Regions from separate parts of the Homo sapiens genome. Here regions 1, 2 and 3 are each reported to be linked to region 4. The links are microRNA targets in miRTarBase. Many come from high-throughput screens and were not tested one by one. Region 4 holds a microRNA gene; each other region holds the end of a gene's coding sequence.

Region 1 (3,137 bases), not on the chromosome of region 4:
ATTATGCAGAAGAATGGAGCTGGATTACACACAGCAAGTTCCTGCTTCTGGGACAGCTCTACTGACGGTATGATTTTCATTCATGTTTGTGAAGTTTTGTTGTGTGAAATATATGACTGGAAGTTTCCTATCTTTGAATGCAATGCATGTTTATCACCTTTTAAAACATTTAATAATAGACTTGCCAAGGTTCTTTGTGTAGCATAGAGATGGGTACTTGAATGTTGGCCTTATTGTGAGTAAAACGTCGTCCCCCAGCTTTCCCTGCCGTAAATGCTGCTCTCTTCCCTCCCGCAGGGAGCTGCACTGTGCGATGGGAGAATAAGACCATGTACTGCATCGTCAGTGCCTTCGGACTGTCTATTTGACCTGCAGTCCAGCCTATGGCCTTTCTCCTTTTGTCTCTAGTTCATCCTCTAACCACCAGCCATGAATTCAGTGAACTCTTTTCTCATTCTCTTTGTTTTGTGGCACTTTCACAATGTAGAGGAAAAAACCAAATGACCGCACTGTGATGTGAATGGCACCGAAGTCAGATGAGTATCCCTGTAGGTCACCTGCAGCCTGCGTTGCCACTTGTCTTAACTCTGAATATTTCATTTCAAAGGTGCTAAAATCTGAAATCTGCTAGTGTGAAACTTGCTCTACTCTCTGAAATGATTCAAATACACTAATTTTCCATACTTTATACTTTTGTTAGAATAAATTATTCAAATCTAAAGTCTGTTGTGTTCTTCATAGTCTGCATAGTATCATAAACGATTTCTTCATAGTGAGTGGCTACAGAATCTATACAACCAGACCAGGCGCAGTGGCTCACACCTGTAATCCCACCACTTTGGGAGGCTGAGGCAGGCGGATCATGAGGTCAGGAGATCAAGACCATCCTGTCTAACACGGTGAAACCCCGTCTCTACTAAAAATACCAAAAATTAGCCAGGTGTGGTGGCGGGCGCCTGTAGTCCCAGCTACTCGGGAGGCTGAGGCAGGAGAGTGGCATGAACCCAGGAGGCAGAGGTTGTAGTGAGCCAAGATCGTGAGCCAAGTTCCCGCCACTGCACTCCAGCCTGGGTGACAAGAGCAAGAGTCCGCCTCAAAAAAAAAAAAAAAAAAAAAAAAAAAAAATATATATATATATATATACAACCAAAAAAAAAAAAGTTCTGCTGTGGTCCTCTCCATGATGTACTCATTTTACCCGTGGGACCAGGATCCTGACGGCTCTGCTGGGTTCTGGTTAGATTCCTACCCCTCGGCATCACACCTCCCATTCTTAAGCCCTCCTCTTCTAGAGGTGAAGGGGTGGGAGGTGGGCAAACCAATTTCTATTCTCTTAGCCAGAGAGCTCTAACTCACACTTGGCCCAAAGCTGTAACACCTTAACTGTTAATCCTGTGTTCTCTGTAGGGCTCACAAATTGTCTTAGTACTTCAGAGCTTACAAAATGGTTTTCACAATCATTCATTCTGTGTCTTCAACAATTTGCAGTCATTTAAAAATCTCAGAAAATGTGTTTGGAGGTTATCTGATTGGTTTAAAGTCACACATCCAAGTTGGGAGCTGGGCCCAAACCCACGCCTTGTCTCCATCTTGAGTGCTCTTCCCCAGGCCACATTAGACATGGCAATAAAGATACCTCCGTGCCTGCCTGCTGAAATGGAAAAGCCCTGCCGTTGTCTCCAAAGCCGCTTTATTAAAGCATTTATGTCTGCAAGGCCAAATTAACTCCACACACAAAGAGCAAACAAATCAAGACACATAGAAGTGAATATTAAAAATTTATTAACATTTCCCAGAAAGGTAGTGTCAGAATTAAGCCATTCGCAAAAGACGAATTTGCCATAAACAAACATTCACTTTTGCCTGATGACAGCAACACTGTGATGGGGTGGCACTGTGCCCCACGGACAGGTCCACAACTGAACACATGGCTCTATCTCTCCTTTTGGGCTTAAAGTTTAGTGTTATTTTATTTTACAAATATTTACAGTCATTTTGTAAAAAGGCAGTTTTTAGTAGCAGAAAATTCTTCTGTTTTATAGTATGGTATCACAGTTACTAGCGTATCTCCAATGTCAAACCAAGATAAACAGCATCACAAGATGTCACAGACTAATACAACTTCCCTTTGGCCAGGGGAAAAGATCTGTATCTTTTTTTTTTTTTCTTCAAAAGTCTAACCTCTAAGGCAACCGGTTTCTAAAACCCTCAAAATACACAAATACACTTTCATGTTTTAAGTCTCATCTTCACTAAATGTTCAGACACATCCGTTTTAATTATCCCTTTTATGAGGGTCTGTGTTTTTCCTGTGATAAAGGATTCAGGAAATAATTTACCACATTATAATCTATTTAACATAACTACCCTCAGTAAATAGTTCATAAAATACTTGAGGCTGGTGACATTTGTCTTGTAACCTGCTCATTTAGTGGGTTGGGTTTACAAAATGTATCTAAGCTTTTATTGCAATCTGCAATTATGTACATTAACAACCTTACAAACCTTGAACATAGTATATATATCCCCTTCTCTAGCCTTTCAAATGGGGCTTAAGAGAGAGAAAATGGCACCACTTCACTGCTATAATGATTTAATAATAAATCAAGCAGACTTATCATCCACATGGATAACGAAGCTCTCCCTAGGGAAACTGAAATACCTCTGGTCATCTTCCAGGTTCTCCTAGACTGGACCAGTATTTAAAAAATCCCAAAGATGATGTTACTCAAGCCATTACCATGAAGGAACTAAAGTCAGCCCTTTAAGTTCGCAAAACTTTAACATAACTACCCTCAGTAAATAATTTATTTTTTCTTCAACAATTTTCTTGCTACTGTCAAAAGTTTCTGGCAGACTTTAGTGTTTTAACCTGATACCTATGGTACATATTCTACATGCCAAGTGCTAGAGAGTTTAAGCAAAATTTTACATGGGGTATGTAATATGTCGGTATTTATGATATACCAGGGAAGACAAGTTGAAAATACATGACTTAGTAAGAACGATTTTCCCCTTAAGTACTTTCTAACTTTTTTTCTTATTTCCCACTTAGTTACAAAAAGTAAATAAATAATCCTATATTTTTCATTTCATTGATGCATGAAGACTCAATGTATGAAGATAATAGTCATCAG
Region 2 (3,137 bases), not on the chromosome of region 4:
ACAGGGCCCAGCAGAGAGTGTATGTTCAGAGACTGGAACAGAGGGCATCAAGCAGCCTGATTTCCTCCAAAGCTTAGATAAGAAGCAGGTGTGACTGAGTACTTACAGAAGAAACCCATCGTCAGGCCTCCACAATCCATTGTTTACTAACTGGGAAATGGTACCCGTTTCCCAGGAAGGAGGATTACACTGTCCAGCAGCCCACATATTCTGGGAGCCAGGGACCTAAGCCCTTCACCAGAGAGCAGGAAAGAAATGGAATCCCATCATGTTCTGGATTTCAGTGCCAGCACTTCTACTTGCATTAACTTTATTACACAAATAAGACATTTACAAAGCACGACATGAAAGGTATGTAACAAAACAGACATTGGTTTTACAAAAAAAGTGCTTACAATTTTTTTTCCGTGTGTGTGTTTTCCCCTTTTTTTGTATTTAAATAAATAGTCTTGATGGCCTGTACGTTCCCAGGCTGCTCTTAACAGGGTAGTGGAGACATGTTTGAACTGTAACATGCTACGGCCACATAATCCACGCAAGGAATAGACCCTGAGGAGAGGCTCAAGGCAGAGTGTGTTGGGTGACCCTGGGTAGGGCTTGGTTGGCCACTTACCACATGGTTGCCACTGGGGCCTTGATGATCAGGAGCAAAAATCAAAGGAAAGATTTGAGCTCCAAGGCCAGGAATTGGGCCCTGGTTGCTCCTGTTAATGTCAGCGCCTAGCACAGGGCTGGGCACAAGTTACCACTGACTGAGTGCTGAGCTGAGCTGTACTCACCACGTTCTGAGTGGTGCCTGCTCTTTGCCCTCAGTCAGCTGTCACTGTCTTTGGAAGGGAGAGGAAGCAGGTTCCCTTCTTAGGCTGCACCTGTGCCTACCCTGCCTGTAGATCCCAGAGCAAGAATGACCTATAGGCTTTCATGTTAAGTGCCAACGTCAAGCATTTGAACTCTGAAACCTTATCCAGACTCAGTGAAATAGAGCTGCCATTGATTAGCAATGTCTGCCATGGGTAAAAACAGAGACAATGGCTGCGTATGTACCATGAACTTGCTTTCCCTGTCTTAGAGTCTCCTTCCAAAAGCAACATAACAGGTTAACCACAGCAGGAAGGCGGACTTGGGCTAAAACATGCTGATTAGCAACCTCTAGTGGAAAATGCATCAGGACACCAGGTAATTCTAGAATTACAGGATAAGCTTGGGACAAATGGGCATCCCCTGAAAACATAAATCATGGTCGTGTGTAGCCTGAGCCCTTTTGTTTGGGGTGGAAGAGTTGTAGCAGGATGGATGTTACGCAGCTGTGTCTGACCTCTGTTCTCAGGGGTGGGTGGGGCTGGCTCCAGGAAGTATTGATTGGGAAGCTCAGAGGCACCAGTTGGAATCCTGAGCTTGGCACACTCACCTAGGCAATGGGCACCCTCTCTCTACTTAGAGATGGATCCAGGGTTAACATTCTGACTGCCATTTCACTGGGCTCTGTTCCCTCTCCCCTATAAGGGATTCCCCTTCCATTGAGAAGACCTGGCCCAAGCACCACTATGAGAGGTCAACAAGTGGCCAACAGGGGTCCCCAACTCTAACCTGTCCAAACATTCAGAAGAGTCATGGCACAGATCGAATACCATCGCTGCTATGTTTCTTACATATATGCTGGATAATTAGGTGGGGGTAGGGTCTCTCCCTGACCCCAGAGTTTTCTCTTTCCTCTCCTTAAAATGGCTAGTGCCTCTTCTGGTCCAATATGTCACCGCCCTCTCCTTGATTTCCAAACCAATGGGGGTCTTTCTTCTCCCCATTCCCTGTCTATCCCCGCTGCCTCCTAGTCTGGGCAGGCCTCCATCTCTGCCCTATTAGGCCTCTCAGGGTTGGTCACTGTCTCTTCTCTTTCTGAATTAACTTGACATAACCAGACAGATGGAAATGATAAAATTAGAACATAGCTTTCCTTTGGGGACATCCCACAAACACTGTAGAGTTTTCCAGACAAAAGCAACAGAGTGGATAACATTGGGGGTTGTCAGCTATTCAGAATTCAGAGATGGTTCCAAGGAAGTAGTAAATAAAGGCCAATGTGGGGGAAAAAAACCTGTAAATGAGAAGGCCGTTGGCATCGCACAATTCAATTCCGCCTTTTGTTATTGTAATCAGCTGAAGTTGAAGAGGACTCCTGTTTAAATGGGAAAAACAGGCTGTTTCCACCCTGATTCCAGATTTCAGGGAGTTCTGCCTTCCAAGAGGAGGACTCTGTGGTGCTCCTGGTGGGTTCTGGTTCTCAGCAGGAGAGGGAAAGGCCAGGCCTCGGGAACCGACCTGGTGGTGGGCAGGATGGCGGACGGGGGTGGATGCGGAGGTGGGTGGACTCCTGGCCGCAGCTTGGACACTGGATCTCAGCGGCTGAGGGGCAGCTGTGGGGCGCCCACGGGCAGATGCGGAAGTGCCGGCAGCGTTAGTACTGAAAAAGGATGACCTGCAAGAGGAGGGCATGGGAGGTGGCTGAGCTGGGGGCCTGCCCCACCCTGCTGCCCCCCAGAGAACCTCAAAGGCACAGAGAAGAAGGGTGGACTCAGGGCCCAGATCTGAGTTTAAATCCTGGCTCTGTCAACTGACTTGCTGTGGGACCTTGGGCAACTCACTGCACCTCTCTGAGCCTGTTTCCTCATCTTTAAAACAAGGATGACAAAATCTCTCTCTGAGAATCAGAGAGATTCAATGAGATACAACAGCAGCAGCAAAAGCCTTCTGGGCATTTCACCCTGCACCTTCTGTGCCTGATTTCACGGAAGCCGCACCATAGCCCCGTGAGGGAGTTCCAACGTTCTGTTTTACAAGGAGGGCACTCAGGCTCAAAGAGGTGGAAGCGAGTGAGCTCGTGGGCACACAGCGAGGAGGAGGACCTGGCACTGGAGGCCAGGCCTGGCTCACAGCAAGCTCTCCCTACCAAAGCACATTGCCTCTACCTTTCCAAGGTCACCGTGACCATAGTGGCTGACTGCTTATTACCCACAGGGCCACGGGCTAAGCACTTCACATGCGCTTAATCTTCACATGCACGAAGCCTAGAAGTGCGTGGCTCAGACACACTGGGTGCCCGATACACAGTGGGAGATCAGGACTGTCTGTCCCTTTCCCCC
Region 3 (3,137 bases), not on the chromosome of region 4:
TCTCACCATGTGTCCCTGCCCCATGGCAGACAACTAAAGTAGAAATATAACCGCTCCTCTGGTCCCTTCCCTAGCTCTAGAGGCTCCTCTCCCCAGGTCTACCTGCTCTGCCTACAGAAACACATCCTTGGTGTGTTCAATCTTTTCACTTCCCTGGGCCACACTGGAAAAATTGTCTGTAGCTGGACAAGCTTGGTCTAAGTATTTTCTCAGCTGTTCTGTCCTGAGCCAAGTGAAAGTGCCAGGGAGGTTCCTCTTCTCCATGTAATCACTGGGCTCTGAAAGGATCTGGGCTTTTGTGAGGTCATTCAGCACGAAGGGAAGGCAGTGCCAGAACTCTGAGGGTCTCCTCCCAGACCCTCAGTTCAAGGCCTAATGCTCGGTCGCCCTTTACAACAGCCCCCTACCCTCCCTTCCCTCAAGTAACAAGTCATAAAGCTAGTTTCACCCAGCCCCAAAGGCTACAAGTAACGGGCACCCTCTGCTAACTGACAATACTGGGCAAATACAGATGTTCTCCACGCCAGTTTCATCATGTACAAAATCAGGATAAGATCTACCACAAAAGGCCATGAGGATTAAATGTAGTCTTCTGCAAGACCATTAAACTGACAGCAGGATGCAACGGCATGTACCCAGCCAGTGGCCTAACCTTGCAGGCACAGGTTAGACTAGGCACTGCCTTACCCTGTTCGATTCTTAGTGTTGGTTTCTAGTGAAACGCTCCAAATAAACTCAAAATTCAAAAGTATTGTTCCAAACCCTCAGGACAGGAACTATCAATCTAGTTTGCCAAGAAATGTACTTTTCATTAACTTCTGATCAGGGGCAAAAATATAATGGGTCAGAACTGAAGAATCCCATACTGAGAACTTTTAAACAAAACTTAGCTACACATTGCCTCCCACTCATTTTTGCTTTCCTTGTACTGATGTCCTTTGAACACTAGTCTGAACTGCAGAATCCACTTATACACAGACTTACTTTCACCTCTGCCATCCCTGAGACAGCAAGACCAACTCCTCCTTTCCTCCTCAGTCAACTCAAGATGACAAGGATGAAAACCTTTATGATCCATTTCCACTTAATGAATAGTAAATGTATCTTCCTTATGGTTTTATTTCCTTTTCTCTAGCTTACATTATCGTAGTACAGTATATAATACATACATATAACACGTAAAATATGTGTTCACAACTGTTTATGTTATTGCTAAAGCTTCTGGTCAACCGTAGGCTACTGGTAGTCAAGTTTTTGGAGTCAAAAGTTATACATGGTTTTTTGACTGCATGGGGGTTGGTGTCCAACCTCCACACTGTTCAAGGGTTTACCGTAATACCAAAGCTAAAAACAATCTACATAAAATAGTAAAATAAAGCTGTCCATTCAACAGTAAATCTTTGGCTGTGAAAAACCATGAGTAGGCCAGACGCAGTGGCTCATGGCTATAATCCCAGCACTTTGGGAGGCCAACACAGGCGGATCACTTGAGGTCAGGAGTTTGAGACCAGCCTGGCCAACATGCTGAAAGCTTGTCTCTACTAAAAATTAGCCAGATGTGGTGGTGGGCGCCTGTAGTCCCAGCTACTCAGGAGGCTGAGGCAGGAGAATTGCTTGAACCCAGGAGGTGGAGGTTGCAGTGAGCCGAGATCACACCACTGCACTCCAGCCTGGTGACACAGCGAGACTCCGTCTCAAAAAAAAAAACAAAAAGTATCAAAAGAAAAAACTGGAAAAACAAAACAAAAAAAACACCCGTGTGCTAACATGAAAGTGTACAGGCTGTGCTACTAAAAGGGAAAATGCCAAGTTGCCACCACAGTCCCTATGGAGTAATGTCTTGCATATTCTGGGCACACAAGAAGCATACAGGGAGGGGTTGGGAGCTTTAAGTTGGACAGTAGCTCTCACTTGTTAAGATATTCACATCACCTAAGAATGATATTAGGCTAACTGATCAGGAGCCCAGGTGATTCGAGTATGAAAGAAAACCATGAGAACAAATTTTCTAAAAACTGTAGGCTTTTTTATTCAGTTAAGAGGTAGACAAATGAACATGGAAGGCTGTCCCACTTAACTTGCCCAAAGTTCACATTCCACTTCATTCATCCATCCCACACTGCCAGAAATCTTAAAGAAATAACCAAGATTGCCAACAGGCTTTTTCTTTCTTACTTCTTCTTAGCAATAACAGTCAATAAACTGCTTGCAAAAAAGTTACTAATTTAAATTTTCACTGTGTTCAAAGAACCTCATCCCTCTAAGAAGCTCCCGAATATGCCAATAGATCCTGCCACTACTGACAGGAGGGCAGAGTACCAAGGACTCTACTTATATAAGAGACTACAAGGGAAGTTGTAGTTATATTTTTGTTGTTAAATCCCTGTGCATGTGAGGGCAGAAGCTGGTGAAACCAACAACGCAGAGCATGCTCTGTCAAACGGCTCTTCATGGTTTAAAAAAAAGAAAAAAAAATCACAAGTCATCTTCAGAGACAACATTAAAACATAATGGAATTGAAGCCTGATACAAAAAGTAGAGAAATATGTACAGGAATTCACAGCCCAGAAGGAAAGGGGACCTCAGCAGGAGCCAGTGGAACCCGGGCTATTTTACACAGCTAATTTTGAGACAATTCATATTTAGCACAAAAGCAGTTATAGCACAAGTAACACTTCCCTCCTCTGGCTCCCAAATAAAAAGACTCTTGTCAGTCTTCTGTTAACACTGTAATCATTCTTCAGGGGAGCAGGAATACCTAAGATGGTCCCAAACATTGACACAAATTTTAATCTCAAACAGCTTCACATTCTGAGGATGACATATCTGAAGATTGCCATGATGGCAGCACTGATAACTCCAGAAATGGGGACTGTGACAAACCAGGCCATAAAAATGTTACGAAAGAGACGCCAGTCAACAGCCTTCTTGGACCGGAGCCAGCCAACAGACACAACAGAGCCCACCTAGAAGAGAAGCAGACCAAGGAAACAGGTTATTGAAGTGCCAGTGGTATTCTGGCAAACAGACACCTGAGACTGTTTGGACAAGGAGCCCCAGACCCCTGGACAAGACAAAGTCCAAGAAAGCTGGTTTACAACAGGTTAAGCTGGGAAAATGAAGGCAATTTGAAAATC
Region 4 (3,137 bases):
GGCCTGCACCAATCAGATGAAGGTTTAAATGGAACAAAAAGGCTGACTCTCCCCTAAGTTAGAGAGAATTCCTCCTGCCTGACTGCCTCCAAACTGGGGCATCTCATTTTTTTCTGGCATTGTACTCAAATTAAAACATTAGCTCTTCCTGGGTCTCAAACCTGCTGGCCTTTGGACTGGAACTACAAAATGGTTTGTTCTACTGCTTCTTTGGCCTCTGGACTTGGACTGCAACTATACCATCAGTTCTCCTGGGTCCCCAGCTTGCTGACCCATCCCCCTGCAGATCTAGGAACTCACCAGCCTCCATAGTTGCCTGAGGTTATTCCTTGCAGTATCCTTATAATAAATATCTTAAGGGATTTATTTTAAAAATAGACTTCTATAATAATTATATACATATATATTTGCTCAATCATTGTCCTGGGTGTTTCTTTGAAGGTCTTATAAGACCTGATCCAGAATCTGAGGGTGCCTGGGGTACCTGTGAAAAGTATGTCCTGTAGGTTTTTTAAGCATTTATTCCTTTTTCTCCACAAAAGGACTACAAAACACTGGGAACAAGATTTGAGGTAGGAACATGATCCTTTTTCTGCATCCTTTTCCTTTTTCTGTGAATGTCATATGTATGTGTGTGTGTGTGTGTGTGTGTGTGTATATATATATATATATATATATATATATATATATATAAAGGGATATATAAACCCCTTTGTATATGTAAAGTTTCCAGAAGTATATGTACACACATGTTCATACATATATGTTCTCATCACTTCATCCGTTCCCATAATAGTTAAGACCAGCTAAAAACATATAAATAGTTCAAATGAAAGCAAATTTGGGGTATCATATCAAACTCCACTGATATGAGATTATCATCACGGATACACAGGAATATTAAAGGGAATTTGAGTGTATCTAAGCCTTGAGGAGATCACTTCATAAGAAAGATGGTTCATGGAGTTTGGAGTTCAGCAGGGAAGGGCAGGAGGATATTTGTGCTCCCTAAAAAGAAGGCTTAAATATTGTGAGGAAAGAAGATCAGTGTAAACTTCTCAGGGGTTTATAAGGCAAGAAGTGTATTTGGGTTGTTATAGAGAGAAAAGACTAAGAGGTACAAGAGAAAAAGAAGTATCATGTTCCTACCTCAAATCTTGTTTCCAGTGTAGTCAGTCATTTTGTGGAGAAAAAGCAATAAATAATTGAAAAACCTACATGAGAGACTTTTCCCAGGCACCCTCAGATTCTGGAGCAGATCTCTCAAGAGGTACTTCAGAGAGTACCTGGAAATGGCTCATCACTAAAGGTTGGGTACCAAGGCTCAAGGGAGGGCAGTATTGTCACTGAAATTCCACTCGTCATTACCAATGCCACCACAAATGTTGTCCATGTTGCACATTACTCTACTCAGAAGGGTGCCTTACAAATATTAATCTATTAAGTAACACCTTCCTGAATAAGGCACTACACATAGTATGGCTGATGGTGGTGGCACTGACCATCTTAATAGTAACACGGGGAAACTACAGATGAGGCTATTCCCAGAGAACCTCATCCTCTAGGTTTTACCCCACAGAATTCTCTTTAAAGGGTTGTATGAGTTGACCCATCACTGAGTGGGTAGTTCTGACTTGTATCTGTTGTGCATTATTTCACTCCAAAAGGTGCAAAACATATTTCTAGACACATGCATGGCACTTCTTGAAGTGAAGCACTACACACAGCACAGCGGAAAATGTCCCTCACTCCGCCATTTCAGTCAGAATCCCAACACTCTCAGTCCACTAGGAATAAGCAGAATATAGTCAATAGATTAAAAAAAAAACAAACCCTTTTTCCTCTCCCTTTTGTCTCCTATGTCTTTCACTGAATGCTTATTAATTACTTCACCTGCTGCACATTTAATGAGACAGATTTTAGGAGAGAGAAAATTTTCCCTCTTCCTCCCAGACTTAGCATACTTCACTAAATTGTTCTGCTAATTTTCAATTTAATATAGTTGGCACATGAACAACTACTTCATATGCCTCAAAAGCCAGTCATTACATAGAAAGGACCACTCAAGTGACTCATCATATCTAGCGATTGCAGGCCAGATAGAGCTCAGTTGAAGCAGTGCTGGAGAGTTCTCTTCTTTCCAATTTGAATCTTCTTTATATCATTGGGGCCTTGGTTTGGCATCCTCTGTTCAGAGATGAAGGCCTACAGCAGCAGAAGCAGTAGTCACCACAGTCATGCACTTGCAAACCAGTGTTTAGACCAAGAAATATCTGCAACACATGTGAACACATGCATGCCACACATGCAAATAAACATGTGAACAATGAAACAAACAACCCCAAAACGAATGCTCACAAAATAGGGCAATGCAAACACAAAGACAAACACTGCATGATCTGACTCATACGCAGAGTCTAAGAAAGTTGATCTCATAGGAGTAGAGAGTAGAATGATGGTTACCAGAGTCTGGGGAAGGGAAGGGAAAGGGGGGTTGGGGAAAAATTGGTTTATGGGTACAGAGTCACAGTTAGGAGGGCTAAAAGTTCTGATGTGTTATTGTGCAGAAGAGTGATTGATTATAGTTAGTTAACAATATTTTATGGTATATTCCAAAATCACTAGAAGAGAGGGTTTTGAATGTTCTTCCCACAAAGAAGTGATGGACGTTTGAGGTAATGAAAATACTAAATCCCTGATTTGATTATTACACAATGCATGTATGTATCAAAACATCTCACTATATCTCATCAATATTTACAAATTATTATGTGTCAACTAAAAAAACAATAAAGGAGTAACAATTTTTTTTTTGAGACAGAGTTTTGCTTTTGTTGCCCAGGCTGGAGGGCAATGGCACAATCTCAGCTCACTGCAACCTCCGCCTCCTGGGTTCAAGCGATTCTCCTGCCTCAGCCTCCCACGTAGCTGGGATTACAGGCATGTGCCACCAGACCCAGCTAATTTTCTGTATTTTCTGTAGAAGCAGGGTTTCACCGTGTTGACCAGGCTGGTCTTGAACTCCTGGCCTCAGGAGATCCACTGGCCTCGGCCTCCCAAAGTGCTGGGATTACAGGCATGAGCCACCGTGCCCAGCCGGGAGTAACAATTTTTAAGAATGTAAAAATACTACTGAA

The links. The annotated mature microRNA hsa-miR-506-5p reads UAUUCAGGAAGGUGUUACUUAA and lies in region 4 at 1,441-1,462, opposite strand. An mRNA with a match to its seed (bases 2 to 7 or 8) in the 3' UTR can be bound and repressed. Matches are read on the target gene's strand: a 7mer-m8 pairs with bases 2 to 8, a 7mer-A1 pairs with bases 2 to 7 and ends in A, and an 8mer does both.
Region 1: miRTarBase lists DYNLT1 as a target of hsa-miR-506-5p. Seed matches in the 3' UTR shown: 7mer-A1 at 588-594.
Region 2: miRTarBase lists LHX6 as a target of hsa-miR-506-5p. Seed matches in the 3' UTR shown: 7mer-A1 at 2,029-2,035.
Region 3: the mRNA of SLC20A1 is a reported target of hsa-miR-506-5p. Seed matches in the 3' UTR shown: 7mer-A1 at 2,029-2,035.

What each region holds. Positions count from the first base shown.
Region 1 is chr6:158,634,058-158,637,194 of GRCh38, reverse strand. It overlaps DYNLT1 (dynein light chain Tctex-type 1), which reads left to right. Exons shown (of 5, transcript NM_006519.4): 4 at 1-67; 5 at 298-721. The coding sequence ends at 368. It overlaps TMEM181 (transmembrane protein 181), which reads right to left. Exons shown (of 17, transcript NM_001376852.1): 17 at 1,766-3,137. Among named protein-coding and RNA genes, the nearest start is that of DYNLT1, 9.1 kb to the left of the region's middle.
Region 2 is chr9:122,202,308-122,205,444 of GRCh38, forward strand. It overlaps LHX6 (LIM homeobox 6), which reads right to left. Exons shown (of 10, transcript NM_014368.5): 10 at 275-2,473. The coding sequence ends at 2,453. Among named protein-coding and RNA genes, the nearest start is that of LHX6, 25 kb to the right of the region's middle.
Region 3 is chr2:112,662,693-112,665,829 of GRCh38, reverse strand. It overlaps SLC20A1 (solute carrier family 20 member 1), which reads right to left. Exons shown (of 11, transcript NM_005415.5): 11 at 2,005-2,966. The coding sequence ends at 2,805. Among named protein-coding and RNA genes, the nearest start is that of SLC20A1, 18 kb to the right of the region's middle.
Region 4 is chrX:147,229,348-147,232,484 of GRCh38, forward strand. It overlaps MIR506 (microRNA 506), which reads right to left and starts at 1,496; the gene lies at 1,373-1,496. MIR507 (microRNA 507) reads right to left here and starts at 1,730; the gene lies at 1,637-1,730. All of the region lies in intron 2 of LOC105373347 (periphilin-1), which reads left to right.